Regions from separate parts of the Homo sapiens genome. Here regions 1, 3, 4 and 5 are each reported to be linked to region 2. The links are microRNA targets in miRTarBase. Many come from high-throughput screens and were not tested one by one. Region 2 holds a microRNA gene; each other region holds the end of a gene's coding sequence. Distances are from middle to middle.
What was found. The annotated mature microRNA hsa-miR-5699-3p reads UCCUGUCUUUCCUUGUUGGAGC and lies in region 2 at 3,292-3,313, shown strand. An mRNA with a match to its seed (bases 2 to 7 or 8) in the 3' UTR can be bound and repressed. Matches are read on the target gene's strand: a 7mer-m8 pairs with bases 2 to 8, a 7mer-A1 pairs with bases 2 to 7 and ends in A, and an 8mer does both.

Region 1 (5,554 bases), 130 Mb from region 2:
GGGCTAGGCGTGGTGGCTCATGCCTGTAATTCCAGTACTTTAGGAGGCCTAGATGGGAGGATCGCTTGAGCCCAGGATTTCAAGACCAGCCTGGGCAACATAGTGAGACCCTGTCTCTAGAAAAAAATTTTAAAACATAGCTGGACATGGTGGCACGTGCCTATAATCTCCGTTACTCAGGGGGCCGAGGTGGGAGGATCACCTGAGCCTGGGAGGTTGAGGCTGCAGTGAGCCATGATTACGTCACTGCACTCCAGACTGGGTGACCGACTGAGATCCTGTCTCCAAAGAAAAAAATAGATCAGGTGTTATTTCTTAAATCTAGCTAAATAGCTCTTCATTCCCAAGCGATGCCCCACTGCCCGATTTTCTCTCGTGTCCAGATGGGCCTGGCTCCCGACCCCCAGCCCAGAGTGAGACTGTGTGCGCTTTGTCTGCTCAGGGTGCTGGTTGTACTTTGCTGCTTACGGTGGGACTGAGACCACAATATTCTCACAGGCCTGCTTTTGTTTGCTGGGCACTTGGAATGTCTTTCAATACAACGTTCACCATTATTATTACCCCATTGGTGCTCTTGCCAAAAATTCCTGCAGCAGGTCTCAGCGATGGGTTTCACTTCAGGGAGGAGGAGACCCAGTCCCCGGGAGGCTGGCCTTGTGGTGCTGGGGACACGCTGGGTGTGGGGCCCCTGACCAGCGCCCACCACCCGCATCTGCCCGGTGCAGAGTCCCCAGTGCGTTCCTAGGGGTGGCGGCACCACCCCTCAGACCCGGGGATTTGGGCAGCATCCCTCCCTCGGCACAGTCCTTAATAGCGTCCTCTCCTCCCTGCCAACAGCTCTGTCTTCAGTCTGTAATCGCGTGTATTTCTTGCCAGAAGCACTACAAACTCTTTTTTCTCTTTCTTTCCTTCCGTTTCTCCATCCTCCCCTTTCCGTTTCAGTTTCTATTTTTGTTCTTATTTTTCTCCTTAGCTTTCATTCTCTGGTCATAGTCCGTCTTGGCACCCTGACGTGGTGAGTATTTCGTTGGCAGGGCCCAGCAGGGGTCCCGCTCTGCTTCCCGGAAGACTCCTCTGCCCCTGCCCTGCCAGGGAGTTGCCCACCTGCCATTCGATCAACTGGAAGGCGATGACCCAGCATCCCCAAAAGGGTTGTTAGAAAGCCACCCGCGTCCTTCAACACTGGAAGTCCCTCCCTGGGGGTCAGGACCCGGAGTCTTCCACTGTAGAGGCCGCAAGGTGCTCACCTTTCCTGAACGGGAAGGAGAGCAGGGTTCCCACCACCACCCCAGTGTAGCAGAAACATGCAGGACCCTCTCTAGGGGGTCTTTCTGCTTTGGTGGCACTCGGCAGCAGGCCCTGGGGGCAGACACGGTGGTTCTGTGATTCGTCCTTGTTCTTTTCTGGGTGGTGCTGAGCACAAGCTCGGGCGGTGCTGGAGATTCAGCCAGGAGGGCTTGGTCTCCCTGCCAGGCCGGGCAGCTTAGGCCAGGATAGCTGGAGTCTACAGGTCATGGCTGCTGCTACCATGGCACCCGCCAGCATAGATGGCTGCCTCCTTCCAAACTGGAGGAGGGGCAAGTAGGACGTCACATCATTGTTCGCCTCGGTCCTCGAGTCTGCACCCTTCAGCAGGTCCCGAGAGGAGCTTCCCCTGGGAGCAGGGCTCTCCCTCTCCATGAAGCCCCTCATCCCTCACCCCTTACCCCTCACTCCAGCCAAGTGGAGTCTCCCTGACATCCTCTCCACGCAGCCCTTCGGTCCTCACCCCTCACCCCTCGGCCCTCACCCCTCGGCCCTCGCCCCTCGCCCCTCACCCCTCGGCCCTCGCCCCTCGCCCCTCGGCCCTCGCCCCTCACTCCAGCCAAGCGGAGCCTCGCTGACTCTGCACTCTACGTTTCATTTCTTCCAGCCCCACATTGAATCGGACCCTTTTCCTCCAGTGGGACCAGAAAGCAGGGACAAAATGGGACGTCGCGTCTCCATCCTGAAGACCCAGGGAGATTTGGTCTCTGCACGCCCGTCCCGTGGAGGAAGAGTGAGAAGGGGCAGTGTGTGGGGCGTGGAGCTGCCGTCCACGTGGGATGTGCCAGAACTAGAACTGGCTCTGCCGACTTCTCGGGGGCTTCTCCGGGACGGGCCTGGCCTTGGCTGCTGGACCCTGGGTCCCTTCTCCCGGACGGCAGCCCCCATCCCATTTCCAGGGATGTGTAGCATTCCCTGCCAAGCAGGGGTGAGAACTGCTTCTGTGCAGAAGCACCAGCCGCGGGTCCCCTCCTCTCTCTTGGTTCTCACAGTAGCTGCCACTGGTGTCTGGAGGAAGATTTTCAGAAACAACAGAGGCTTGGCCTGATGACAAGATGAAAGCTGGACGGTGACCTTCATTCAGGGGAACCTGGAGGCTCCCTGGGATGGTCCTGGGAGGGCTCCCCGACGCCTCAGGGGCCCCTCCGATGCTGCAATATGTTGCTGGGGTCCTGAGCACCCGCTGGCCAACAGACCCCACATCCACCCTCGTTCATCATCATCTCTGTGGGGACAGACAAGAGCCGTGGCCGCCGCGGGCCGCGTGGTGCCATCAACCCTCTGCCTCCCTACTCAACCTGAGACAGGAAGGCCAAGATCCCGCCCAAGCCGCCAGCTGGGAGCACCGCGGGACTGAGCCAAGGAAGGCGTGGGGAGCGTGGTGACAGGAGGTGGGACGAGGGGGCGGAGCTGGCTGGAACACGGATGCCAGAGGCTGCCTCCATAGTGAATCTCCAGAAGTCACAGAGGCCCTGGGCACCCAGAGCCACCCAGCCTGGAAGCCCCTGCACGGGCCAGCCCTGCAGGCCATGGACCCCGGCGGGCACCGAAGCCTCACCCCAAGCCTTTGCACACAAGGAGCAGCCCAGGTGGGGATGGCGGGCGCAAGAAGGGAACCGCGGGGACGGCCTTTCCCCTCCCGCCCTGTGTGGGGACGCTGCACGAGCCGTGGACCAAGAGGCTGACAGGTAAGGGCTGCCATCTGTCCGCGGGGAGGGCCTTTGCACCCTCCCTGCGAGGTGAGCTCCAGCTTCTTCACACCTCTGTGTCCCCGTCTGCACATGCGTGACGCTGCCACCCCGTCCACTGCTGACCCGTCAAGATCACCTCTCCCGCCACTGACGGGACAGGGCCTGGGGGCTGGTGTGGAGCGTGGCGTGAGCTGTCGCTGGGGCAGGGTCTGCAGACATGGTGCTCCACGGGGACCTGGCGTCTGGCAGAGCTGGTCCTCCTCCCACTTGCAGGAGGAGGCTTGCGGGAAAAGGGAGAAACCCCGTAGGTGCAATGAGGCCGCTCTCCGAGTGCGCCTCCCTCCGCTGCTCCCGTGCACTTGAACGTGGACGCCGCCCCACACTCGGCCCCGGCACCTGAGGTGTCCGCTCTGGGGAGGCGACTCTGGGTGCTCCCAGCAGGGAGGGAGGGAGGTCAGGACTCTGGGCATGCTCCACCGTGGAGCTTTCCTCGCCAGCGGGGTTCCCTATGGGAGGGTTTGTGGATCCGTTGTGTCTGTGGGACTCAGCGGGGCCCTGGGGCAGGGTGAGCCGGTTCTTGGGGAGGCAGTGGCAGCCCCATGGGGGGCCGCCCAGGGAGCGCTCCATCTCCCCCACCTCCGACCCACACCGTGTCTGAGAGCCACCTGTGTCTCCTGCAGTGGGCAGCGGCTGTGGGCCACGGGCACTGTTGTTCCCGGGAGATGCTCCCTGCGTAGAAAATGGGAGGGGGAGGAGGAGGTGCGACCACCACCCTGGACTCAGGAGAGGGCGGCAGCTCCATCTTCACCCTTGACTCAGGAGGGGTCCGCAGCGAGGAGGAGGTGCGAAGGGGGCGGCGGCTCCGTCTTGCAGGTCCCCTGGGGCGCGTTCTTCAGGTGCGTGGTGGACGAGGCGGCGTCCTCGCGGGGTCGGGACCTGGGTACCCAGCAGCATCTGGCTCCTGCATCCACCAAGGGCGCCCAGGCACAGCCTCAGGCCAGAAGGTTCGCTGCAGAGGTTCATTCTAGAAGGAGCGGGAGACCAGCAGTCCCAGCCCTGTCCAAGGACGCCCGCTGCTTGGCACACGAGGGCGCCGCAGGCCCACCATCCCTCAGGACATGGCTGCCGAGTCCCCAGAGACTTCTGGTCCCACAGCAAGAGCTGGAGCTCCAAGCATAACATCTCTAACTGTGCGGCAAGGACAGCGCAGCCAGAGGTCGGGAGCTCCACAGCCTCCAGGGTCCCCCGAGGGCGGCTGGGGACAGGGAACGCCCCACAGCACAACAACACACACGGCGTGGACATACGCACCTCCCCGCCATACGAACCTCCCCGCGGAGGCTTCCCGGCTGCCTCACTCCCACCCCCTGCGGGCCAGGCCTCACAGCAGGGGCAGGTGGACCATCCAGGCCATGCTAAGCCCCGAGCAGGTTCCCACAACAGGTCACAGAGGGGACGCCGGGTCAGGAGATGGGGGCCTGGGGAGCAAGGCCCCCCACAGCTGCCCTCGGTGACATCTGGGACTTGGACATCCATGGACGGCATCCCTGGATGGAGCCATTTCCTGGGTACTGGACCTGGAGGTGACTCGGAGCTTCTCCTGCTCCCAGCGTGTGTCCATGGGGGCGGTCAGGGTAGACAGGCCACACCGTCATCAGGGAGGGGCAGCCGGCCGCCAACGTGCAGACTGTGTCTCAGGCCTGTCGGCATGGCGGGGACAGAGGTGGGTGGGCGCCGCTCCGCTCGGGGGCTGACAAGCCACAGGCTCATTGTGGACAAGGCGTCTGTACAGCTCCGCACAGAAGACTTCTCAGCCAGTCCCGTCAGCCTCCCGGGATCAGGGAGTGAGCCTCGAATGCTAGATCAGAAAGGAAAACGTGTGAGTCAATTGGCCCCAAGCGTCACGTTGCACCAGGCAGAGCTGTCAGCCCCAGATGCTCGTGGAGGGCTGTCACCCAACCCTGCAGCTAACCCAGGGGTGGGGAAACCTGTGAGCAGAAACCTGTCCCCGCTGGAGCACCAGAAGCAATGCCTTCTTGAGCATGTTCAGTCAAGTGAGGAGAGGAGAGCGATGCCTTTGCAGGCTCCCTTGGGGGAGGTTACGGAGCGGGGACTTTGGGCCGAGGCCGCCAGCTCACAGGGCTCCTCTGAAGCGAGGCGGCTGTCATCCTCTCGGGATCCTCTCCCACCGCGTCTGCTCCGAGTGTGCAGTCTCCAGCGTGAGTTTGAAGGGTGTCAGGAAAGAGCTACTACCTAAACTTGCAGCCAGCAAGGGGCTTTTGTGCCCTAGTCCCCACTCCCAGCCCTGGACCACCAACCCCACACCCATGGGAAGCAGAGGGCCCCTCACCCACAGCCCGGCAGGTGCACTGTGCGCCCTGCTCTGTGGTAGAGGAATTGCGACAATGTCCGTCCGAGTGTATTTTTGCCCAGTAAATGAGACGCGAGACGTTACTGTGCTGTCCCAGTGAGCATCTCCCTTCTCTCCAATTAGCTTTTTTCCCCAACTGTTTATTTTGAAATAATTTTAGACTTAAAGTTGCACAAATTGTGTAGAG
Region 2 (6,317 bases):
CAGCTTTTAGGTGCCTCTTCAGGTCCTCAGTCCCTTTCTCACCTTCCTCACAGTCCTCCCCATCTCATCCATCTTCACTGTAATTCGGTTATTTTTTCATTTTTATGCTCACTTTCCCATGCGACTTTTGTTCTTGTTTCACAGATGCTGGTGCTAAATTGTATGTCTGAGGCCCAGGGGCCGTGTTTCATTCTGTCTGCCTCTGCATGTACTTTTGAGAAGTAGGGGCAGGGTTGCCCCCTAGATGCTGTTTCAGCTGGACCTGCCCAGGCTCCCTGAAGTGGGGGCATTGGGCAGAGCCCATGTGGCTCTATGGTGGGCCGTGTTGCTGAACCCTACGTCTGAGATTTGGGGGCCGTGTTTCATTCTGTCTGCCTCTGTGTGTACTTTTGAGAAGTGGGGGTGGGGGTTGCCCCCGGACGTTGTTTCAGCTGCACCTGCCCAGACTCCCTGAAGTGGGGGCGTCAGGCAGAACCCGTGTGGCTCTACGGCGGGCCGTGTTGCTGACAGAGCAAGAAGCCGCGCTCCCAGGACGCGCCTGCAGCTGTGGGCAAGTCTGGGATTGTGATGGGATCGTTTCCTTCTCTAAAATACGTCTCAACTATTATCCAGAGGGTTGGCTGTAGGCTTTCAACAGCTTCACTCTTCTTAGTGACCAGGAGACAATTCACTAAACAGAGTTGCTGTCAGGGTTTAATTAGTCAGGAGTTTCTGCCAGAGGCTGGCGGGACAGCTCCCTCTGCAAGCCTCCTGCAGCCTCCCCATCCCCACTCTTGGGCCCGGCCACCTGCCTTGGTCTGCAGAAGGTGCACATTCTCTGTTCTCCTGAGGGGCTCCTGGACTTCAGGACAGCCTTGGCAAGCTGATGTGTAACTCCCAGTCTCTTCTCTTTTTTAGTAAGGAATACGCTCACGGAATCCTGACCTTCTAGATTGTTTCATCTTTTTAAAACAGCCGCAGCTTCCTAAGCCACCTTGTGTCTGAGTGTGAATCACTTATTATTTTTCACTGCAGAATGAACAGAACTGGAATCATAGGATTTAGAGGGTGATAAAAAGACAGAGGTTAGGATATTCTATTTTCTCACCTCTTCCATACACTTTTTCCTTAAATACACCCTCATACGTCTGTGAAGTTCTTCCCAATTCTGTAACTTCACTCCACCCTCAGGTGGAACATTTGTGAACAGTAACAAGTATTGATGTGTGCAACTCTGCAACCCAGCTGGAATTAATGCTTTTTATTTATCAATGGATGGTCATTGGATGGCCAGAGGGATTCCCTGTGCATTGTGGGGGCCCAGTGCCTGCTTGTGAGTGACATGGACATAACGAGGGTTAGGGAATCTCAGCCTCTGTGATTCGAGTAGTGACATCAAGGCAGGTGGATGACTCTTTGAGCTTGGCATGCTCCTGGGTGGCACAGCACAGGTGACGTGGACTGGGGCAAGGGCTTGTTCCACGGGCTTCTGTGTTGTTTTTTGTTTTTGTTTTTTTTTGAGATGGAGTCTCACTCTGTCACCCAGGCTGGAGTGCAGTGGTGCGATCTCAGTTCACTGCAGGCTCCGCCTCCCGGGTTCGTGCCATTCTCCTGCCTCAGCCTCCCCAGTAGCTGGGACTATAGGTACCCGCCACCACGCCTGGCTAATTTTTTTGTATTTTTAGTAGAGACGGGGTTTTACCGTGTTAGCCAGGATGGTCTCGATCTCTGACATCATGATCCACCCGCCTTGGCCTCCCAAAGTGCTGGGATTACAGGCCTGAGCCACCGTGCCCGGCCTGTTTTTTTTTTTTTGAGACGGAGTCTCACTCTGTTGCCCAGGCTGGAGTGCAGTGGCGCGATCTTGGGTCACTGCAACCTCCACTCACTGCAATCTCTGCCTCCCGGTTCAAGCCGTTGTCCTGCCTCAGCCCCCAAGTAGCTGGGATTACAGACATGTGCCACCATGCCTGGCTGATTTTTGTATTTTTAGTAGAGACGGGATTTTGCCATGTTGGTCTGGCTGGTCTTAAACTGTTGGCCTCAAGTGATCTGCCCACCTTGGCCTCCCAAAGTGCTGAGATTACAGGTGTGGGCCACCGTGCCCGGCCCTGTGTTTGATTCTTAAATCTTCTTTTTCTTTTTAATCTTTCTCTTTCTGGAGGACCACTCAGTGGATATGAGGAAGAGTTCACAGATGTCCATATTACATTCCTTTCTTAAATTAGCCTCCCTTGAACACTGCTGTAGGGTACAGACGCATGAAGGGCTGAAAGGGTGGTTGTGTCCCAGTAAGTGTGAGAGTGGAGCTGGTCTGTGAGACCCCGGTGCCGGTGAGGGCACCCGTGTGCGATGGCCTGGGACGGGGGTGTGCGGAGCCCTGACCGTGGCACACGCCCTTCAGCTTTGATGTTTCAGGCCCTTGCTCTGGTCATCAGTGAGCAGAAGGTCTAACAGCAGTGATATTTATCACTAGTTGTGTTGGCCAATGTGTTAGGAGGGTGAAGCTGTTTGACTTAAGCTGCTTGATTGGTTTGCATTTAAATAGACACCTGGTGGCCTGGTGCCTGGACACTTGCTCTGTGACCTGCCCCGTGTGGCTCCTCCCTCTGGCATGCATTAGATGAGATGGGCGTGTTTAGGGCGATGTGGCCCTAGACTGGAATGCATTCGAAGTGCAAACCCTGCCCCACCCCAGACCTGCCCCACCCCAGTGTGACGTTAGGAGGCGGAGGCCCAGCATCCTTCACCTGCCCTCCAGGTGGGTCTGAGGATGCTGAGGTTTCAGAGCACTGCTTTGCTAGCACACCAGCGAGTCCTGCTTAAAGAGGCCAGGATCTGAAAGGGCAGGTTACCAAATTGTGTAGCAGAAAAATAGAAATGTTTCCTTAGAAGGGGTGTAGGAAGGAAAATAATTTCCTTCATCATATCTGGAAAAGATTTCAAATTAGTAGGCACTATTTGGAATTATTAGTGGTCTCCTGTATTTCTTTCTTTCTTTCCTTTTTTTGATACAGGGTCTCGCCCTGTTGCCCAGGCTGGAGTGCAGTGGTGCAATCTTGGCTCCCTGCAACCTCTGCCTCCTGGGCTCAGGTGATCCTCCCACCTCAGCCCCCTGAGTAGCTGGGACTACAGGCGCGCTACCACACCTGGCTCATTTTTGTATTTTTTTTTGTAGAGATGGGGTCTTGCTATGTTGCCCAGGCTGGTCTCGAATTCCAGCATTTCTTCTGCCTCAGCCCCCCAAAATGCTTCTGTACCCCTGCCCCAACAAGGAAGGACAAGAGGTGTGAGCCACACACACGCCTGGCCTCCTGTCTTTCCTTGTTGGAGCAGGGATGTAGAAGCACTTGCCGCAGCCGACTTGAGTACATCTGACTTTACTTAGCTTTCCTCATGGGTAGCCTGGCAGTGCTGTGCACCAGTGCTGCTGGCCAGCTGTTTTTTCAATGTACTGGCAGAAAATCAAGCTGACACCCGGGTTCCTTTCTCCCTGGGTACTGACCAGGTGGGAGAGGAGGGGCGTTGTGTGAGTATCATCTTCATGAGGGCTGGTGGGGGAACATCAGCTTTAAGGTGCCTGGGATCTAAGGCATGGAACCCAGCAGTGCAGAGGAACGTAGGGGATGTAGCCTCGGGAGCAGAGATGTGCGGGCCGGTGCCCTCGTTCCTGGCGGGGTCTGAGTGCAGGAATAGGTTGGTGACCCAGCCGAGGTCACAAGACCTGCCTGGATGCATGGCTGGCGTCCGTGCTGGCCCCAAAACTGCCCATTTGGGGATTCCCCTCAGTCACAGACTCACCTAGGGGTCCGGAGAGCGTCCCCACTATGACCTCAAAGAACGAGGTGTTGCCTTGAGATCTTCCAAGGTGAGGGTAGGATTTTTTTTTTTTTGCAATTAGCAATAATTTGTTGTGAATGATCTTGGACCTATTTTCCACTTCTTTGTATAGGAAGAGAGACAGAATAAAAAGTCTCAATGTGCCAGATGCCATGTAATGAAGCCATGGGGTTAACGTTGTTGATTATTACGTAGCATCACGTTAATTGGAACATATTCACACGTGTCCACAGCGTGTGCGTGTGCCCAGTCCGATGAGCACGTTGGGTTAGGGTCGCTGCTGGTTCATGCAGCCCCTCTGGGTGGGGCTGTCTCTGTGGCTTGGCCAACACCCTTGCTGCTGCCACTGTTGGAGTCTCCAGCCTTGACCGGCCTTGCTGCCCCCAGGTTCTCGGAGCCTGCGCACCCTCTTCCCGGCGCCCACCCTCTTCCCGGCGCCCACCCTCTTCCCGGCGCCCACCCTCTTCCCCGCGCGCAGCCTCTTCCCCGCGCGCAGCCTCTTCCCCGCGCGCACCCTCATCCCCGCGCGCACCCTCTTCCCCGCGCGCACCCTCATCCCCGCGCGCAGCTTCTTCCCCGCGCGCACCCTCGTCCCGGCACGCACCCTCGTCCCCCGTCGCGTCTACCCGGGGTCTGTCGTGTGTTTCTACTCTGGCCATGCCCGCCTCTTGCTGTGAGCTAAGTTTATTGAGGTGCAGTAAGAAACCAACAGAGGGGAGCAGAGTCCGAGGCTGTCAGGGCGCAAGGGAGCCTTGGGCATCTCTTCCCCAGCTCTGGCGACCCACCCTTCGGGTTGAAGTGCAGGGGAGAGGTGAGTTCTAAAGGTAAGGCTGCGGTGATTTCCTGAGCCTTAATTATCTAACACTTGGCCATCTGCCGTGTGACCCCATCGAAGGGCACCTCTGGGGACAAAGCAAAGCCCTTGGTGGCCGTGGGCGGGGCGGCCGTGCCTGTCTGTGTGTCCTGCACCGGGAGCCCCGCCAGCCGTGGGGACGTTCAGGCACTTGCCACCTGTGGGAGGTGTGTGTTAGCCGCGTGGTAGGTGCGGATGCGTGGAGGGACAGGCACAGGCCCACAGGCGTGGCGGGTATGGGAGATTTAGCCGCGTGGAGATGCGTGGAGGGACATGCACAGGCCCACATGCGTGGCGGGTGTGGGAGATTTAGCCGCGTGGGGATGCGTGGAGGGACATGCACAGGCCCACAGGCGTGGCGGGTGTGGGAGAAAGCGCGCAGAGTGCCCAGCAGATGCCGCGTGGTCAGCGGAAGCCTTGGATACAGGCCGGGCGGGGGAGGGACATCTGGAAATACGCTTTAAGCAGCATCAATGGATAATGCTGTGATTTTCCTTCTTTTCGTGGTCCAAAACACGTTCTAGTGATGTCGCTGATTTGTGTGTACCTGGGACAAGGAACTAAATATATTAGGGCCTTGATGTAATCTGTAAAACAGGCACAATATGCCTATTTCAAAGAGGCAGTGGACATGAAAGACTGCTCTAAACTATTCAGTGCAATGAGAATGCTTCGTTGTCATTAGCAAAGTAAAATGCCTCCAAGGCGAGCTTGCCATGCGTTTAATGACCTTGGACGTGAGCTTCCTAAACCTGCCAGAAAGTGCTTCCAGCGTGGCTTCATGCAGTGGCTTCAGTGGAGAATGTGCATATGCGGCTGATACTGAGAGCCGGGCAGCACCCTGACAGCCTGACACATCCCCATGTGTGGACCGTGAGCCGGGCAGCACCCTCCCAACCTGACGCGTCCCCATGTGTGGACCGTGAGCCGGACAGCACTCTCCCGACCTGACACATCCCCATGTGTGGACCGTGAGCCGGGCAGCACCCTCCCGACCTGACACATCCCCACGTGTGGACCGTGAGCCGGGCAGCACCCTCCCGACCTGACGCGTCCCCACGTGTGGACCGTGAGCCGGGCAGCACCCCCCGACCTGACGCGTCCCCATGTGTGGACCGTGAGCCGGGCAGCACCCTGATGGCCTGACGCGTCCACATGTGTGGACCGGGAGCCGGGCAGCACCCTCCCGACCTGACGCGTCCCCATGTGTGGACTGTGAGCCGGGCAGCATCCTCCCGACCTGACGGGTCCCCTTGTGCCCATTGTGGGACCTCCATCATGCAGGCAGGTGACATGCATCAAACTGAATGCAAGGAGGAGGGTCCAGGATTGTGTGCGGGCTCCGTGTCTCGTCCTTCTGAGGCCTTCTGGGAAGCCAGGAGGGCAGTGGGGTCTTTTGTGTGTTTCCTCCTGGTGGCCGTGGGTTTGTAGAAATGGCTTTTTGCAAAAGGGCCCGGAGGCGGAATTAGAGCCTGTCCTGGAAAGGATGATGCCTTCGCGGGCACCTCTTTCCATTACTCCAGTGCTCCCGTGATTTTAAATATGTGCACCCTGCAGACTTCAGCCTTCTAGTGTCCTGGGTGAATAAATGCCAGGATTGCTCCAATGCTGGCAAACCTGAAACAGGAATTTCTCTGCATTAAGT
Region 3 (6,317 bases), not on the chromosome of region 2:
TAGTATGAAGACTGAAAGAGAGAATGTGGGCTCTCATTGTTTTTTCTAGTCTGCTTTTTTGCATACCTGGATACCAGGCCTAGGGGAAATGATAATTTCCATGTAAGATAGTAAGTGCTATGATAGAGGCATTTGGGGATTAGTACTGAGTCAGCTTTTATAAATACCTGACAGGGTCTGGGGTGGATTTCTGGAGGAGCGTTCGACTTGAGCATTGCTTGAAGCATGAGTAGGAATTAACCACGAGAATAGAAGAGAAGCTGGGTTTGGGAAGAAGTAAGAGCTTGAACGAGCAAAGCCATCGAGATGTGAAACCTCAGGGTTTTGTGAGGAACAGTAAGCCCTTGGTGTCACTGGGAATACAGTGCAAAGCAAGGAGGGGTGCAATGTGTTTGGGGGGACCTGGGCTGTGGGTTTGCCTTGTTGAGGAGCTTGGGCTTTGTCAGAAGGCAGTGGAGAGACTAGGTTGTAGGTTGTACTAACAGTAATGAGCAGGTTATATTCATGTTTTTAAAAAGATCACAGTGGATTTTGTATAAGTGACAGACTTGAGGGAAGCTGGGAAATTGACAAGGGTACTATTGCAAAAGTCGAGATAAGGATTGAAGAAACATTTAAGAGGTGAAATGAGCAGGACTCAGTAATTGAATTGGGTATAAAGAGTGAGAGAAGAACCAAGGCTGACTCCCACATGTTTAGCCTGTGTGTCTGGGTTGGTGGGAGCAGCGCCAGCCTCAAGTGAGGGCATATGTACAGGAAGCAGAGCCAGTCCAGGAGATGATGTGAATTTGGAGATGCTGAATTCAAGATTCCTATTGGATGACCAGTTTTACATTTGAATGTTATTCCATTTGAATGTTATTTGAATGCCTATAATTACATTTGAATGTTTACATTTGAACGTATTCATTACATTACATTTGAATGTTACAAATGTAACATATTACATTTGGATGTTAACTGCATGTATTTACCCTTGAGAGGAATAGACACAACTGAGGGTGATTTAATAAGATTTGGTTAAAATAGAAAGCTTTCTAAAGACAGCAGGAAGCCATGTAATATATGTAGAGCCTTCCCTGCTTCTTGCTTTATTTTCCTGCCCTGGTGGTCAAAACTGTAAATAGGTGAGCTAGATGAGTTTGTCTAGAGAGGCTGTAGCATAGGATTGTGGGGCCAAGGATGAGATTCTGGGTTACAGACGTGCCTAAGGGGCTTTGCTTATAGAAAGGAAACTGAGAGCATTGCTGGGCCATCAGGTTCATCAGGCTTTACAGTGCTGTAGTGATGTCTAGGACCATTCTTTTCCAGGCCCAGTGCTAAACGACGGTATAAAAACCAGAAGTTTGGTTTTGGTGGAAAGAAGAAAGGCTCAAAGTGGAACACTCGGGAGAGCTATGATGATGTATCTAGCTTCCGGGCCAAGACAGCTCATGGCAGAGGCCTCAAGAGGCCTGGCAAGAAAGGGTCAAATGTAAGTGAGCCCAGGTGCCCGGGTGAGGAGCAGGCTCAGCCTCCCCTCCCACTCCCAACCCTGCCCTCTCCCTTCAGTTCTGTTCGTCCTCACCCTGGGGCAGAAGGCAAGCTGCTATGTGACCAGATGTGGTATGTCTTTTTCTGTAGAAGAGACCTGGAAAACGAACAAGAGAGAAGATGAAGAACAGAACACACTAAATAGCATCTTTGAATACAAAGAACCAAGAAAAAGGAATGAAGACTCGCAATTTCACGACACACTTTGATCCCTTCTGTTGGTGTCATGTTGTAAACATTTCTTTCAATAAACTAAAGAAAAATTATTAAAGGAACACATACCTTTGGTTAAATAGTCTAGACTAAAAGATTGAGAAGTTACTTTCCATTGCTATCTATTGATAATTTAGACATTGAGTTCAAATTGCCTTCATTTTATGATAAATAATGATTTAACTGACACCTTCTCATTTCCTTTGTCTCATCCTTCTAAATAGTTATATTACGATCAATCCCTGTAAAGCTCAATGCCCATATTTTACAGGTGTGAGCCACCGTGATTTTCTTTGTGGTACAGCTTTTGGTTTTTCCTCCAGTTAACCTTCACCTTACATTCTTCTGCTTGCCTAATTTTCCTTCTATATTCTTAGTTCTTTCCAGATGCTTTGTCATTTTACCCACTTTATAATTTTTCTCCTACAACCTAGTTATGCCACACAACTGTCACCTTTTTTCTAGACCGTTTAAGTTGGCACCATTATTTCCAGAATCCCATGTTTTCCCATCTTAGCATATGCCTTCTTTTGCTGTGTACCATTTTTTGGTATCTTACTAAGAAAGGGAAGATGAGAGGTAAACTTTTTATCTCCTTGCATTTCTGAAATTGCCTTTAATTTGGGCTGATAGGAATTTCCTCCTTAGAATTTTAGAATTTCGCAGGCACTGTTTTTAAGTTTTATTTCAGTTCTACTTTTGGGGGGAGATATATTTTTGTTTTTTAAAATCTTTTTTTTTTTTTTTTTTTTTTTTTGAGACACAGTCTCACTCCATCGCCCAGGCTGGAGTGCAGTGATACAATCTTGGCTCACTGCAACCTCCACTTCCCAGGTTCAAGTGATTCTGCCTAAGCCTCCTGAGTAGCTGGGATTACAGGCGTGCGCCACCACACCCAGCTAATTTTTGTATTTTTAGTAGAGACAGGGTTTCACCACGTTGGCCAGGCTGGTCTCAAACTCCTGACATCAAGTGATCCACCTGCCTCTTCCTCCCAAAGTGCTGGGATTACAGGCGTGAGCCACCATGCCCGGCCTAAAATCATTTTATTGAATATGAAGTTTAGCTTTCATTTCATTTATCCCCCAAGAGTTTCTTATTCTCTATTTGGTCATTTTTCATATCATTTTACTCTTATCCTCTAGATGCAGTATCTTATATCTCTCAGAATATGATTATAGTTTTAATTTTTTTGATAAAGTTTCCCTCTGTTCCCTTCATTCTGTTTCTGCAGCCCATGCATTTTGATCTCCTCTTTCCCGTGTTTGAGCAGTAGAGTATTGTAGAAGCTAAGAAGCGTGGATTCTGGGGCCTGGCTGTGTTGCTTACTTGCTGTTTGACCGTAGGGAATTTAATTTTTATTTGCCTTGTCATCTCTAGCATAATGTAGATGTATCTACCTCATTGGGTTCCTGTCAGTATTCGGTTAATCAATGTAAAACACTTAGAACATTATCCTAATATAATCCGATAATCTGATAATCCTCTCATATTCCTTTGATTAGGATTGTTTTGCTGGGGTTTCTTTCCTTAATATCTGGCAAGCCTTGGTTGTTCATACATAAGCGGAAGCTCTGCGTAGGTGGTACATTGAGTAGGCAGGCCACATTAATTGTTGGGCTTTACTCTGTGTTGATAGGGTGGTAAACCATTTTACCTGCCCCTTCTCTCTCCATTCCAGTTTAGAAATCATACTTTATTTTTAAAGAAGTTAGAAATGCCTGAGAGCTATATAGTATCTTTAGCAGAAAGAATAATTTATTTTCACATTTTCTTGTAGCATTATTGGCACATGAAAAGGATATTTCTGGATTCATATAATACTAAGATTGTAATGTAGAACAAAGAGAATTTAGTTTTTGTAAACTAATTTCAACTAACAAAACTGGTCACACAGGTCATATCAAGAAGACAAAAATATTTACTCTGTCCTCTTTCATAATTCATGCCATATTATTGAATGGGGATAATGTGTAACAGGCTCAGAAGCAGTTTGAGACTTTGAATTATGCAAGTAAATATTGAGAGTTTCACAAAAGAAAGCACAGGTTAACAACATTTCACATTGATAAAGCCAAAAGTAAGTTTTTAATAACAACATACCTCTAAAGGCTTTCTTGAAAACTATGTCCCCCCTCTTTTACTTCTTGTTTTTTTCTCTTTTTTATTACAGAGCAAAGATTTACATATGGACTCACTTTCCTTAGTTTTAGAAATATCCTCTGTAGAACTCATTTACATCACTTCTATCATTCCAACCCTCAAAATAAAGGGTGATCAAGGTGCAGGTAGCATTATGCCTTCTTTTTCTTTTTGTATAGACAGGGTCTCACTCTATTGCCCATGCTGGATTACAGTGATGTGATCATAGCTCACTGTATCCTCAAACTCCTTGGCTCAAGCAATCCTCCTGCCTCAGCCTCCCAAGTAGCTGGGACTACAAGTGCATGCCACTATGCCTGGCTAGGTGTTTTTATTTATTTATTTATTTATTTATTTATTTATTTATTTATTTATTGTAGGGACAGGGTCTTGCTCTATTGCCTAGGCTGGTCTCAAACTTCTGGGCTTAAGCAATCCTGCCTTGGCCTCACAAAGTGCTGGGACTACAGGTATGAGCCACTGCACTCAGCCTCCTTCATATTGCTTTAAAATAAATACAATCCCATCAATTGAAAAATAAGTAGGAACCTAGGAGTCCCCAATACAGATTCTAATATGCATGAATTCAGTTATCATGATGTAATTAAATAAGTTTCTCAACAATGTTCACATTTCAGTTACCAAAGTAATAACTGAGTAGATGCGTAAAGTAGAAACAGTCGCTGCTAGCTCTTTAGTCCACAAATCACTTCATAAATGACAGATGCACGAAGACTAGTGACCATCACTTCTTTCAAAGTCTGTCCCAAGATCAGTCACTGCATCAGTTATTCATTTCACACACACACACAGCAAAGTGTGTAGTTGTGTTGCCTCTTTGTCTTTAGCAATAAACTCCTCATGCATTTTATAGAAGTAGATACCTGAGAGGGAATTGACCACCAAGGATTAATGTACACCAAAGAAACAAAAAGTGATAGGGCACGGTGACTCACGCCTGTAATCCCAGCACTTTGGGAGGCCGAGGTGGGCGGATCACGAGGTCAGGAGATCGAGACCATCCCGGCTAACACGGTGAAACCCTGTCTCTACTAAAAATACAAAAAATTAGCCAGGTGTGGTGGCGGGCGCCTGTAGTCCCAGCTACTCGGGAGGCTGAGGCAGGAGAATGGCATGAACCCAGGAGGCGGAGCTTGCAGTGAGCCGAGATCGCGCCACTGCACTCCAGCCTGGGCGACAGAGCAAGACTCCATCTCAAAAAAAAATAGAGTAAAATTTTTTTTAGATTGGCCAGGTATTGGTGGTATGCACTTGTCCCAGCTACTGAGGAGGCTGAGGTGGGAGAATCTCTTGAGCCTGGGAGTTTGAGGCTGCAGTGAGCTATGTTTGTGCCACTGTACACCAGCCTGGGTGATAGAGTGAGAACCTGTCTCAAAAGAAAAAAAAAATATTTTTTAAATGGTGAGGCTGGAAGTAAAATTTGAGTGCAATGCAAATGGAATTGTAGATGAAATAGCTGATATTGGACTGTGAATGCTGTTGCCCTTCTAGAGACTAGATATACAGCCAGAGAAACCTTGTGAAGGCAAACTTACAAATGAGGAAAGAGATGGAAAGGATGAAGATGTCTCCAGAGAGTGACACTAGTAAAAAACTGTACATTAAAGGGACTCTTGGAGCTATCTAATGACATTGGAAGATCAAGTGATAAAATGTTGAAACTAAATCCAAACTTAGAAAGGAGTAAAGACAATTTGCCAAGGCACGGAAAAAATGCTTGTTCTTCATCGTAAGTTATAGAAGGGAAAAAAGAAGACAAGCATGGTTTTTCATACAGAAATAAAACACTTGATTCTCAATATTTCTACTGTTTTAAAGTGAGTCTACTAAATTTTAGTATTTTAATTTTGTTACGCATTGAACAGAGTTTTTAATACTTTCACACAAATTTTTTTTTCATTGTTTAGTTTTGTTTCGAAGACTTAAAGATTCATACTTTTTTTTTTTTTTTTTTTTTTTTTTGAGACAGAGTCTTGCTCCGTTGCCCAGACTGGAGTGCAGTGGTGCCATCTTGGTTCACTGCAAGCCCCGCCTCCTGGGTTTTCACCATTCTCCTGCCTCAGCCTCCCGAGTAGCTGGGACTACAGGCACCCGCCACCACGCCTGGCTAATTTTTTGTATTTTTAGTAGTGACGGGGTTTCACCATGTTAGCCAGGATGGTTTCGATCTCCCTACCTTGTGATCCGCCCGCCTTGGCCTCCCAAAGTGTTGGGATTACAGGCGTGAGCCACCGCGCCCGGCCAGATTGGTACTTTTTTTTTTTTTTTTTTTTTTTTTTTGAGGCGGAGTCTCGCTCTGCCGCCCAGGCTGGAGTGCAATGAGCGATCTCGGCTCACTGCAAGCTCCGCCTCCCGGGTTCGTGCTGTTCTCCTGCCTCAGCCTCCCGAGTAGCTGGGACCACAGGTGC
Region 4 (5,874 bases), not on the chromosome of region 2:
TGAGCCCCGGGGAGGCTCAGGGCCAAGTCTGGGGACTGAAGGGTCAGGCCCCTCCCTTGGTCCCAGTAGAGGTGGCAGGGGGGCCATCTGGGAGGGTGGCGGACGCTGGCGATGGCCAGCGGCAGCCGGTCATTCTCTGCGTGGATTGTGAAGGGAGGGGTGGCACGGGCCAGGGCTGGTCCTGGGGGGGTGCCTGTGGATCCCTCGGGCCTCCCCTCCCAGCTGAGGTCCCCACGTTCATCCTGTGTCCATGTCCTGCTGGCCGCTCACCTTGGTGTAACGCAAGGTCCATGTGTCCCCAGGAAGCAGGAAGAGCTGGTGCAGCAGGTGCGGAAGCGGCTGGAGGAGGCGCTGATGGCCGACATGCTGGCGCACGTGGAGGAGCTGGCCCGTGACGGGGAGGCGCCGCTGGACAAGGCCTGCGCTGAGGACGACGACGAGGAAGACGAGGAGGAGGAGGAGGAGGAGCCCGACCCGGACCCGGAGATGGAGCACGTCTAGGGCAGGTGCTGCGGGGCCACGGGGGCTCCCTGGAGTCGGGTCCTGGCAGTGGGGACTGCCTGGTGAACACAGATGTGCTTGGGATGACGGGTGCCTCCCAAGAGCTTCCCATCTCCCTAGAAGAGCCCAAGCGTCCCCGTCCCGTGGAGTCGCTAAAGCCAGCCCTCCCTGTCCTTTCCAGAGGCCCTGCCGAGAGCCCGTGCTGCCTGCTGGAGCCGCCTGCAGACGCGGTCCTCGGCCCCACGTGAACCAGGCTCGGCGGCGAAGCCCAGCCTTGGAGACACCCAGGAGGAAGGCCGTGCTCCTGGCTCCCTCCTCGGCCCGTCCCCACTTCCCGGGGCCTCGGGGCACACAGCTGGGGCTGCCCCCACCCGAAAGACCCTCCACGCTCGTCCTCTACAGAGTCCGGCTTCGGGAAGTGCCGGGTGCTCCTGGGCCCTGCCTGGCTCCCTACGACCTTTGGGCTCGAGGCCAGCTCCTCCCCATGCCCGCTGTCCCAGCTCCTTGAGACTGGAGAGCAGCCAGCAGGTGCCCGGCAGCTCGGCGCCACGGCTTGCTGACAGCTGGGAGGGTTTCTCGGTCTGGAGGCGTAGTTTTGAAACTCACATCACCCACTGTGCAGCGTGAGGACGGGACTCTGGTCTGCTGTGGGGGGCATGCAGGACGGCGCCACTCTCTGCCCTGCCATGCGGCTGGTGGTGCCACAGAGCCTCACCGTGCCTGAGTGGCATGCCCAGGAGGCCGCTCTCCTTCAGTAAATGTAACACAGTCGAGGCACGTCATCGGGCAGCCTTCCCTGTGTGCCAACGCCAGCCTTCGCTTCTGAAAACCAAACTCCAGCCGCTGCCAGTCGGGACTTGGTCGCCCGGCGCTGCCAGAATGCTCCACTGCCAGCCGGCCCCCCTGCCTCGGTTTCCCTTCTGTTTAGTGGCGACACAGGCACCCAGCTTTGGGGTGGTGCTGACGCTCCCAGGGGTGCCAGGAGCCACTGGGACAGGGTGAGGCTCCCAGACGCTCCTCGAGGTGCCCAGCTCTCCAGGGAGCTTCTGGCCCAAGGCCGTCTGAGGGATCTGCTCCTTAACCCCCCAGTGCCTTGGCGAGGGCAGGTTCCAAGCCACAGACGCCTGCCCCGAGTGGACTCTGCGGCCAGTCCCTGGTGCCCTCCTGGCCCTGCTGCCCAGTGAGGGCTCCTACGGGTGGGTTCATTGGCCTGGGCCCAGCGAGCCCCCACCTGCATTGACCTTAGGCCCATAGAGAGGGCCTGTCCCGGTGCTGCCCCAGCCAGGATCTGGTCGCTGCCCCAGGGGGACTGATGGGCAGAGTCGCCCCTGTGGCTGGACTGTGACCATCCCTGATGGGGCCTGACCGCGGGAGCTGAGGAAGCGCCGCTCCACCGTCTGCCCTCCAAGGACCCGCATGGAGGCAGTGGGCTGGCAGCTTCCTGCTGCTCCCTGTCAGAGTCAAAGCACAAATCCTCAGGACGGGCTCAAGGGCCAGGGCAGCCGAGGGAAGCTCCAGGTGGGGACCACGTCTTCCTGAGGTTGGTGCCCACTGGCTGGGACCCTTTGCAGTGGGGTGGCCTCCCCTCTGTCTGCCTGGTGGAGGGAGCCGTGGGCGTGGGGACGTGACTGAATAAAGCCACCATGGGTGGATGTGCTTGGAGCCTGGAGTTCGGTGCGTCCGCTAGACTTTGGTGCCCACGTTTGAGCTTCTGTCTTTGGTTGGGTGATGAAAGGCTGAAAGCGGTGTGGGGACAGGGCCAGCAGGTCCCCCAACCTCGCGGACATTCACAACCCAAGAGTCAGGCTTAGGGGTATTCAGAGAAGACCAGGCCGGCCTGGGCATCTGTGGGCAAGGGCCGTGCCCCCTGAGGTGCCGCTGGCTCAGCCTAGGGATCGTGGGTCTTGGCCCTGCTGCCCCGGTGAGGAAGATGGGCTGGGGCTCAGACCCAGCACCGCTCCTTCCAAAGGAAGGGAAGCAGGAGGGGCTGCCTGGCAGGGAGGGCCCCCCAGGTCCTCAGGTCCTGCACAGCCGCTGCAGGGAGGGGAGCTGTGCCCCGGGACCCTGGACTTCAGCTCACTAGCCATGGCCACTGGAAGCTGCTTTCTGGACCTGAAGGCTGGGAGGCCACCCTCCCCTCATCTGCCCGGCACTCAGAGACACTCTGTTTCCCTCTTCCCATCTCCCACTGTGTCCCTGTCTCCCTTGGTCTCTCTCTGTCTCTGTCTATCCCTGTCTCTATCTCTCCCTCTTGTCTCTCTCTTGCGCCGTCTCCCTCTCTGTCCCTCTTTGTTTCTTGCTCTCTCTCCTGTCTCTCTCCCTCGGTCTCTGTCTCTGTCTCTTGCTGTCTCTCCCTCTCTGTCGCAGCCCAGCTTCCTGTCACTGACAGACCCCGATCAGTCCCTCTGATCCCGGGGTTCTGGCCATGTCCTGGCCTTGGTCTGAGATGTGATGATCCCTACCCCTGCCACAGGGCCCTCCCCACTGGAAGCCCATCCAGGCCCTGGGCTGTCGCTGTTGACGAAGCTTGAGGGTCCTTTCCTCTCTCCCTGAAACCTTGGGGACCCCCACAGGCCAAGGCAATACTGGCCTTTGCTAGAGGTCGTGCCCGGTGAGAAGTGAGTTGTAGGCGTGGGCACCTGAGGGGCCAGCCCAGTGCTCAGGCCCTCGTCAAATTCCCTGCCCTGGAAAAGTCTCAGACCCTCAGGCTGAACCCCCTGGGCGCACCGAGGCTCCACACTCCAGCCCCAGAACCCAGACCTGGCATGGGGCGGGGAAGCCTGAGCTCCCAATGCTGGGATCTTTCGTGGGGGCCTCATGACCAGCCTGCCCTGTGCGGTGCCTGGCCCCATCCTCAAAGGCCACTTGGCTGCCCCCAGCCCCGCCCATGTCTCAGCCCCAAGACCTTCTGGGACTTTTTTTTTTTTTAGACAAGAGTTTCGCTCTTCTTTCGCTCTTGTTGCACAGGCTGGAGTGCAGTGGCGTGATCTGGGCTCACTGCAACCTCCACCTTCTGGGTTCAAGCCTCAGCCTCCCGAGTAGCCACCACGCCCAGCTAATTTTTGTATTTTTAATAGAGACAGGGTTTCACCATGTTGGCCAGTCTGGTCTGGAACTCCTAACCTCAGGTGATCCGCCCGCCCCAGCTTCCCAAATTGCCGGGATTACAGGTGTGAACCACCATGGCAGCCCTTCTGGCACTTGCCAGCAGCAGCAAGAGCCTCACGTGTCCCCCGCCTCCCCTCAGACCAAGCTCCCCACCGCTGCCGCCACAGAGGGTACCAGGGAGGAGAGGCTCAGGACCCCCGTGGCGAGGATGCACCTCCCAGCCCTCGGCCCAGCCACACGGACCACAGGGCTCCCGAGTCTCAGCAACACCAGCTAAGGGGCATCATGCCTCTCCTGCCACACCCAGGGCCCGTGCCTTGCTGTCCCTGCAGCCCCCAGACCCAGGCAGACAGGGACAGCCCTTCTGACCACCGCACACACTCGCCACCGCAAAGATCCCCGGGGATGCCCCTCGCCTGTGTGTGTCCCTCATGGCTGTCACAGCAAATCTCCAGGAGCCCGGAGGTGCCCATGGAAAACACCCCCAGCTTCCGGAACGTTCTTTCGGACAGGGCCATACCGGAGCAAGACTCAGCTTTCTGGTAGCGGGTGGCTGGGCACTGCCTGTGAGATTCTGTCACACTCGCTCCAGATTCAAGGGGTCCAAAAAGTGTAAACAAGTCAAGTGCCCATCCAGGGATGAACGAACACAGCCCGGCCCGGCCACACCATGGAGCAGGACTCGGCCATGAACAGGAACCAGGCTCTGACACCGGCCACGGCGCAGATGCCCCTGGAGGAGTCCACCCTCAGCAAGAGACACACAGACACCGACACGGCGTGCAATCCCATTTGTGTGAATGTCCAGGACAGGCCGATTCAGAGACAGGAAGGGGACACGTGGGTGCCAGTGACTGGGGATTATGGGGACTGGGGGAAATGGCTAAAGGGCACCCACAAAAGTTAATGATAATGTTCCACAGTTTTTTTTTTGAGATGGAGTCTCACTCTTGTCACCCAGGCTGGAGTGCAATGGTGTGATCTCTGCTCACTGCAAGCTCTGCCTCCTGGGTTCACGCCATTCTCCCTCCTCAGCCTCCCAAGTAGCTGAGATTACAGGCATATGCCACCACCCCCAGTAGAGACGGGGTTTCACCATGTTAGCCAGGCTGGTCACGAACTCCTGACCTCAAGTGATCCCCCACCTCGGCCTCCCAAAGTGCTGGGATTACAGGCATGAGCCACCGTGCCTCACCAGAATTGTGTACTTTTTTTTCTTCTTCTTCTTCGGCATGGAGTTTCGCTCTTGTTGCCCAGGCTGGAGTGCAATGGTGCAAACTTGGCTCACCGCAACCTCCTCCTCCCGGGTTCAATAGATTCTCCAGCCTCAGCCTGCTGAGTAGCTGAGATTACGGGCGCCCGCCACCACACCCAGCTAATCTTTGTACTTTTAGTAGAGACAGGGTTTCACCATGTTGGCCACGGGCAAAAGAATTTTGTTGAGGGCAAATAATATGAGACCACAAAACTGCCTTCCCTGCTCAGTTTTAATTTTCACAGTTTTAATTTTTAGCCTTCTCTGGTTACCAAAATAACCACGCTCACGGCCGTTCATTTGAAGATATTTCCAGTTAACGTGTGTGAAGTGGGTTTTTTGAGATGTAATTTACAAGCAATAAAATGCTCCTGTCTCTGCTGTCCTGCCTGCCTTCCTTCTCCATCACAGGATTCTCCCTGTGCATTTTCCTTTTCCTTTCTGAGTTTTGTTTTGTTTTGTTTTGTTTTTTGAGATGGGGTTTCCCTCTTGTCGCCAGGCTGGAATGCAATGGTGCGATCTTGGCTCACTGCAATCTCTGCCTCCCCAGTTCAGGCAATTCTGTCTCAGCCTCCCAAGTAGCTGGGATTACAGGCATGTGCCACCACGCCCGGCTAATTTTTTGTATTTTTAGTAGAGACGGGGTTTTGCCATGTTGGCCAGGCTAGTCTCGAACTCCTGACCTCAGGTGATCCACTGATCTGCCCCCACCTTGGCCCCTCAAAGTGCTGGGATTACAAGCGTGAGCCACTGCACCTGGCCTTTTTTTTTTTTTTCTTTGTTTTGAAGCAGGATTTCACTCTGTCACCTAGGCTGGAGTGCAGTGGCGTAATCTCAGCTCACTGCAACCTCTGCCTCCCGGGCTCAAGCAATCCTCCCACTTTAGACTCCCAAGTAGCTGGGACCATAGGTGTGTGCCATCAGACCCGGCTAATTTTTAAATTTTTTGTACAGGCTGGGCAAGGTGGGACACGCCTGTAATCTTAGCACTTTGCAGGGCCTAGGCAGAC
Region 5 (6,294 bases), not on the chromosome of region 2:
ATAGATATTATTATCTGTATTATACAGTTGAGGAAATTAAGACTTACTGGAACCTCATAAGTGGTAGAACCAGGAATCAAACCCAACATTTGGCTCCACAGCCTGTGTTGTTAAGTGATATGCTATACTGCCTGAAACAAGTGTGAGTATCATAGTGTGCAAATGATATGACTGTGGACAATAAAGAAGATTTAAACCAAAGTTTTGATATTTGGATAGAAATCATTATTATTAAACTGGTATCACTGAGGGTGCTAAAGGGGAGAAAAGCTAAAGGGAAATATTAAAGAATGAAATATTGAAGAAGTAAATACATTTCATAGCATAGATGTCTTCTTCTTTGTATGTTCGTACACTGCAAATAAATAAACATAGACATTTTAAAATAGGAAAACCTAAATGCCTCTCATCCTAACTAACTTTAATTTTTTCTTATCCCTAGGTTTATTTGTATTTCCTATCTATTGCCTTTGTAAAAAACAGAGAAAACGATCACGGACAGGTATGCACTGGTAACATGCAGATGATTTCATCCAGCTAAGCTGGTTGGAGTAGGAGCGATACCAAAGGGTACACCCATCTGTGAGTCACATCTTGAAAAACACTGAGAGGAACCTTCTACCATCTCATCTCCCAGTGATTCTCCGTGGGCCACAATGCCTCTAGCTATGGTGCACTCCCAACATGGTATCCTGTCCTTTCCCTAAACAAATTGCTGCTGCTTTTAAAAAATGGTCACTTTCATAAACTATAAACATCTATATCATAACTCTGACCTTTGTGGTTCTTGGAAGAAGATATTTTAAGAACCAGTTATCCTAAGAATTCTGAGCACGCCTCTTCTGAGAATTGCTTGGACTGTCTTTGAACTCTGCACCTCCTTCCAGGCCATCTTGTGAGACTTGGTGTTAATAGCTGAAGTCCTATCTGTACCAACAAGCAAGGCCACTTTTCAGAAGATAAGAGTTCACTGAATGCACCTATTATAATCTGTGGCCCCAGCAGTATAATTCTTTTATCTTTCAAATGTTATAATTGCAAAAAATCTCAATGTCCAAAAGGGAATGAGTGAAACTAAATTAATGAGAAGAATATTAAGTTACTGAAGTGTATATGCGTAGGGGCGTGAATGTGTGTGTATATAAATATGTATTAAAACTAGGCCCAGTAACCTTGTACTTACCCAGTTCCATGCCGCTACACTATTTTTCCACATTTTCATAGACCTATTGAAAGATGATGGCTCCTTTGTGGACATAATTTAGCAATGTATTAAATTAAAGTCAATGTAGACAACAGGCCATTTCGATACTGAACTTTTCTATTTCTTGCTCTTTCTTTTTGTCACACAAACACAGAAATTTGTGCAACGTCACCCCAAGGAGTATTAAGCTTTGTAAACTGACAAAACTGGCTGCTTTTAGGAAATTCTCAAGACACAAATATTCAGTCTTTTTAAAATTCTTACATTTTGGAAAACATGCTTCACTCTATAGATAGATCCTTCACATTGGGATTATTTAATCCCAAAAACAAGTTTGCTGTAGACAACTGCTTAAGCCTTTAAAAAATTCCTATTCTGCTAATTTTTTAACCAACTTGTAATTATAGATAATTCTGCTTTAGGTCAAGGTCTTACATCATTTAATATCCTAACCTTGTTATCTCTTGCCTCCTCCTCTCTGTTTTTATTTGTTTTCAAGGTTTTTCATAAAAACAAATACTAGTTTTGAAGGATTTTTTCTTACATTTAACTGCTCAAACATAATATTTTTGGGGACACCTTCTTATGGAGGAGTTTGAAAACTTTTTATGTTCTTGAGTTTGTCCAATATCAGCTGCTTTTGGGAAAGGAAACAAAAAAGTGAAGGAAATATTTTCAGGAAGTTTTTCTCAACCTACAAAAGCTTTAAAAATAAGAAATTGACAAGTAACTAGACTATGATATGCCTTTGCTTTCATCACAAAAGTTCATCAGCAAACAGGAAAAAAAAAGACCCCTAAAAAGCCTAAAGCTTTAAATTGTCTCCAAATTCTTAAAATTAGTCATCTGTCTTAGATGTACATTTATTTGTCAGCAACCTTGTCTGATTTGAAATAGATGATATGATAAAACATGCATTAACATGAGTAGTTTATTTTTGTTGGGCTCCAGAGTGTAAGAATATTTTATTTTTTGTTTGACATAAAAAGTGAAGTTGACTTGCGTGAATAACAATCCAGCATGCTTTCATTCTTTCTGAATAACACAGAATAACTGTGCTACAGCTTCTGGATTAGTTGTCTATTTCCAGTTAGAGGAGTGTGTGACATTTATGGTTTGGGAATAGCATATTTCTAAAGCATAATATAATACAAGAAATAGTGATGCTCTGTTTTCACAAATTTATCTTTTCATTCACCCATCCATCCATTTAACAGATATTTATTGAGTGCCTATCTTAGGTGTAATAGTATTTAAGACTGAAAGAAGGAGAATTTCTAACCTGTCATAAGAGTAAGGTTTCGTAAATTCATCTTTCCTGAACTTAGGCATTAGTTTGGCAATATGTGAATATGATGAACTCTAAACCTAGCTGATCTGTATATGTATGATGTATATATGTCATATGTATGATATATATGAAATATTCCCATAACTGCATATGAACACATATGCCATATACATATATACCAACGGGCTGAATAACATACTCTTTTGTCTTGGATAATCTGTTTTCTGGGTTATGTATCTGTTGTCTTTGGCCTACTCAGGGATTTTTATTTCTTTAAATAACTTATCTTTTGGACATATTTTTATATTATTTGGAAAACTTTCCAATATTCCTGTTACAAAGTGGTGTCTGTTTTCAGTGATGGCTATTTCATCAGTGCTTGAAATAGTGTGCACTGTGTTGCACAGGTTTTTCATTTTTCTATTGAGTAGATATTTTTAAATTAACATACACATTTTTCTCTTTAAAGGGTCATATCTATTAGGCCTTTCCCTGCTGGTAACTTAAAATGATTATTTGTGAATTTTTTACTAAGTTTCATCAAGATCTTAAAAAGAGAGAAGAAAATAAAAAGTATTATTTATATGTCAGTGCCAACTTTGAAGGTAAAACAGTAGTAGTAACTTTTGGGAGAAATTCTAAAAACTACTTTAAAAAGAAGCGTGCACATAAAATAAATATCTTTCTATCCAAGGCTTGTCATTTTATATGCTTTTATTGTAAATTTAATATATACTACTTTAAAAAATTGAACTATACAGAATTTATAAAATACAACTTTCTCTACTTACCCCACCTCTTATTTTCTAGGGGTAACCACTGTTAATGGTTTGGTATGTGTCCTTCCAGACACTTTCTACAAATATACAAATAAGTGTGTTTGTGTATGTGTCTGTGTGTGTATTCATTTTATACAAATAGAAAAATATTCTTACTGTGCTGTGACTCTTTGTCATTTTATTATATATTAATAGATACCTTTCCATAAGCGTTTAAATAGATTTACCTCATTCTTTTATAAATTACTGCATAATCCATTGTAGGAGTATACTTTAACTTATTGAATTAGTCCCCTGTTGAATGGACTACAAGATTATTTTCACTTCTCTATTACAAAGAAAGCAAGAGTGAAGACCCTTTTGCATATATTTTTGTCACCTTGCATGAACATATCCATAAGGTTGTACATTTGTTTTTTACAAGATCTTTGTAATAAACATTTTAATGTAATTTCAGGAGATGAGGTCATAGAGATAATATGAGACCCTTTTTTGGATAAAAAGAAAGATTGTACAGGAGTGCATAATTTTTAAAGAAAATCGTCTTTTGAAGGGTAATTTCCTTTCTGCCTGATTAGCCAAATAAATACCTTGCCAAAACTTACAATAGGAAATTTTTTTTCAATAAAAATAAAATTTGAGGAGATGTGTGTCAGATAATGTGAGAGAGATGAATTGACTTTTGGATTGCCTCATTTTAAAACTTGAGGGATTTAAATCAAATACCCAAGCCAAATTGGTGATACTTTTCGCATTTTTAGTAACACTATCCACTTTTGTGTATGTTGCTTGACAGAGGAACTTAATTATGCCATTGTGAAAAGTAGGAAAGAATATGTTGGCAATTATAAATGCCCACAGCAATTCCCAGAAAAATACATTAGATTATGTACGATTTAGTGATTTGGTGGGATAATTATAAATCGTGGAATAATTTATATATGTGGAGTAAGAAGAGAGGGGTCAAACCTTTTGGTACAAGCAACATCTTGTTGCCACCACCTTGATTTTCTCATAGGTGCTATTGTGTCCTAAGAGTAGAACAGACAAGAAAACAAAGATAATTAAACACAAGTCAGGTTACAACATGATATCTTTAATTGTACTTTCTCTGCTGTGGTATCAAGATTCAGTGGTGCTTGTCAGAAAATACCTTGTTCTGTGACTCTGACTATCTCTTGAGTCCCAAGGCTCCAATTGAGCCTTTATCTTTCAACCTTACCACCCAAGTATATGACCAACTGTTCTCCTAAAATACCTATGAACCACTGTAATCATTTCCAGTCCCTGATGCCCCTCTTCAACCTCATTTTTCTCCATACCTCTGCTATTCTAACTATTCCTCTTCACTGAAGGAGAAGAGGAGAGACAGGAGGGGCCTAAAAACTCACTCTGGTATGTGGGAAACATTAGAATTCCTTCCTGACCTTTGTCAAATGAGGGCACATCTGCCAAGACATCAGTCCAGCTTCTCCCTTGTTAAATGAAATTGTTTTTAACATTACACTTTTATACTGGCTGTTACATTAGAATTACAAAAAAGTTAGTGGCCTCTATAACCTTAATTGGCATACTTTACTACAAAAATAAGAAAATGTATGCCAAAAAACGTTTTTAGATTTTAATTTTATAAGCAACCTGCACATAAGCCTTAATGTGAGTCTTCACATTGGATTATATTTTTATTCTCCCATATTTGTGGCTGAAATCTCTCCCAACTATTGAGAGTGATCTTTCCCATGGTCTGCTTTATTGTTTTGTGTTAATATCTATTATAAATATAGCCTTAAAATTTTGTAATGCACTTTAAAATATTTGTGCCATTTAAATAATGACAAAGCAATCAATGCATACATTTCAATGGAGACAGTATACAAAGTTAAAGCAACTGATACATATATTTCAGTGGAGACAGTAGGATAACAGTGTTAGCAAATATGTGTCATCTCTTTAAATTTGGGAGGAATCAGAAGCTAAAGATTTAAAACAAATAAAACATACCTGAAGAAAAGTAGCAATTTCTGAAATTGTAGTAATCTTGGAATGGTTATCAAACCTAGCAAATAATACTTAATAAGTGTTACCTAATATACCTAATTGGAATGTTTGTTTAAAATATTAAATTAATTTATACTGAAAGTTTTAACTGCAATTTCATAATTCATGAATTCTATAAAAGAAATCTCCCTCACTAAAAATATGATCAATCAAAACTACCAGTTTTGCACACCAATCCCAAGTTTAAGCATATTTTGTATTTAAAGTTATAATTTAATTATGATACTGTCCCCCTAATATGGAAAATAAGTTACAAAATTCTTTTTTTTTTTTTTTTTTTTTTGAGACAGAGGTTCTCTCAATGTTGCCCAGGCTGGTCTCAAACTCTTGGGCTCAAGCGATCCTCCCTCCTCTGCCTCTGGAGTAGCTGGGATTACAAGCACGTGCCTACTATGCCTGTCTTCAAAATCACATTGTTAATTTTTATAGCCACAATTATTAATTTGATAAAACAAATAATTTTATAGAAGCATTAAAGTATTATCAGAACAAAATCAGAGTTCCAAAATTTGGGGAGTATTTTAAGATTGTGAAATGTTACCTTTTGGATGCAAACCAATGATACAAATCTTTAAGAAAGAATTACAGTGGGACTCCTTTGAAACTCTGATTTTGAAAATAGAACAAATACACATTTCATAGCCAAACTTTGTGTGGGACTTCTATTGTTACTAATTGTAAGGCTGTAACTTTGGTTGACTTCATCCAAATCCAAGAAACAGAGTCACAGTAGTGAGACTATTCTCATTGCTTCTTTGGAGCATTAGCTGAAGCTTTACCATATCACATACCTTACAAAATCCCTATACATATTGCCAGTTTTAAAAGAATGTAATTATGCATGTTACAAACTATATATATCTTTTTGGCTAGAGAAGTGACTATTTTAGAATAACAGTATGAATGTAAAAGGCAATAATTTTTTTTAAATACACAAAACATTGCCATTGCCCTTTTTTGTC

Region 1: the mRNA of JAKMIP3 is a reported target of hsa-miR-5699-3p. Seed matches in the 3' UTR shown: 8mer at 2,607-2,614 and 7mer-A1 at 2,689-2,695.
Region 3: the mRNA of EBNA1BP2 is a reported target of hsa-miR-5699-3p. The part of its 3' UTR that is shown has no 7-base or 8-base seed match.
Region 4: miRTarBase lists MBD3 as a target of hsa-miR-5699-3p. Seed matches in the 3' UTR shown: 7mer-m8 at 3,579-3,585, 7mer-m8 at 3,957-3,963, 8mer at 4,433-4,440 and 7mer-m8 at 5,007-5,013.
Region 5: the mRNA of RNF217 is a reported target of hsa-miR-5699-3p. Seed matches in the 3' UTR shown: 8mer at 4,641-4,648.

What each region holds. Positions count from the first base shown.
Region 1 is chr10:132,166,041-132,171,594 of GRCh38, forward strand. It overlaps JAKMIP3 (Janus kinase and microtubule interacting protein 3), which reads left to right. Exons shown (of 24, transcript NM_001323087.2): 22 at 943-1,015; 23 at 1,913-2,993. The coding sequence ends at 993. Among named protein-coding and RNA genes, the nearest start is that of JAKMIP3-AS1, 18 kb to the right of the region's middle.
Region 2 is chr10:638,695-645,011 of GRCh38, reverse strand. It overlaps MIR5699 (microRNA 5699), which reads left to right and starts at 3,234; the gene lies at 3,234-3,323. All of the region lies in intron 1 of DIP2C (disco interacting protein 2 homolog C), which reads left to right. LOC124902361 reads left to right here. Exons shown (of 1, transcript XM_047426106.1): 1 at 1-6,317. RefSeq lists an enhancer at 4,384-5,290.
Region 3 is chr1:43,159,800-43,166,116 of GRCh38, reverse strand. EBNA1BP2 (EBNA1 binding protein 2) reads left to right here. Exons shown (of 9, transcript NM_006824.3): 8 at 1,312-1,474; 9 at 1,624-1,933. The coding sequence ends at 1,674. Among named protein-coding and RNA genes, the nearest start is that of MIR6733, 8.8 kb to the left of the region's middle.
Region 4 is chr19:1,572,967-1,578,840 of GRCh38, reverse strand. MBD3 (methyl-CpG binding domain protein 3) reads left to right here. Exons shown (of 7, transcript NM_001281453.2): 6 at 303-506; 7 at 683-5,245. The coding sequence ends at 501. Among named protein-coding and RNA genes, the nearest start is that of MEX3D, 7.6 kb to the right of the region's middle.
Region 5 is chr6:125,082,422-125,088,715 of GRCh38, forward strand. It overlaps RNF217 (ring finger protein 217), which reads left to right. Exons shown (of 6, transcript NM_001286398.3): 6 at 443-6,294. The coding sequence ends at 516. Among named protein-coding and RNA genes, the nearest start is that of TPD52L1, 68 kb to the right of the region's middle.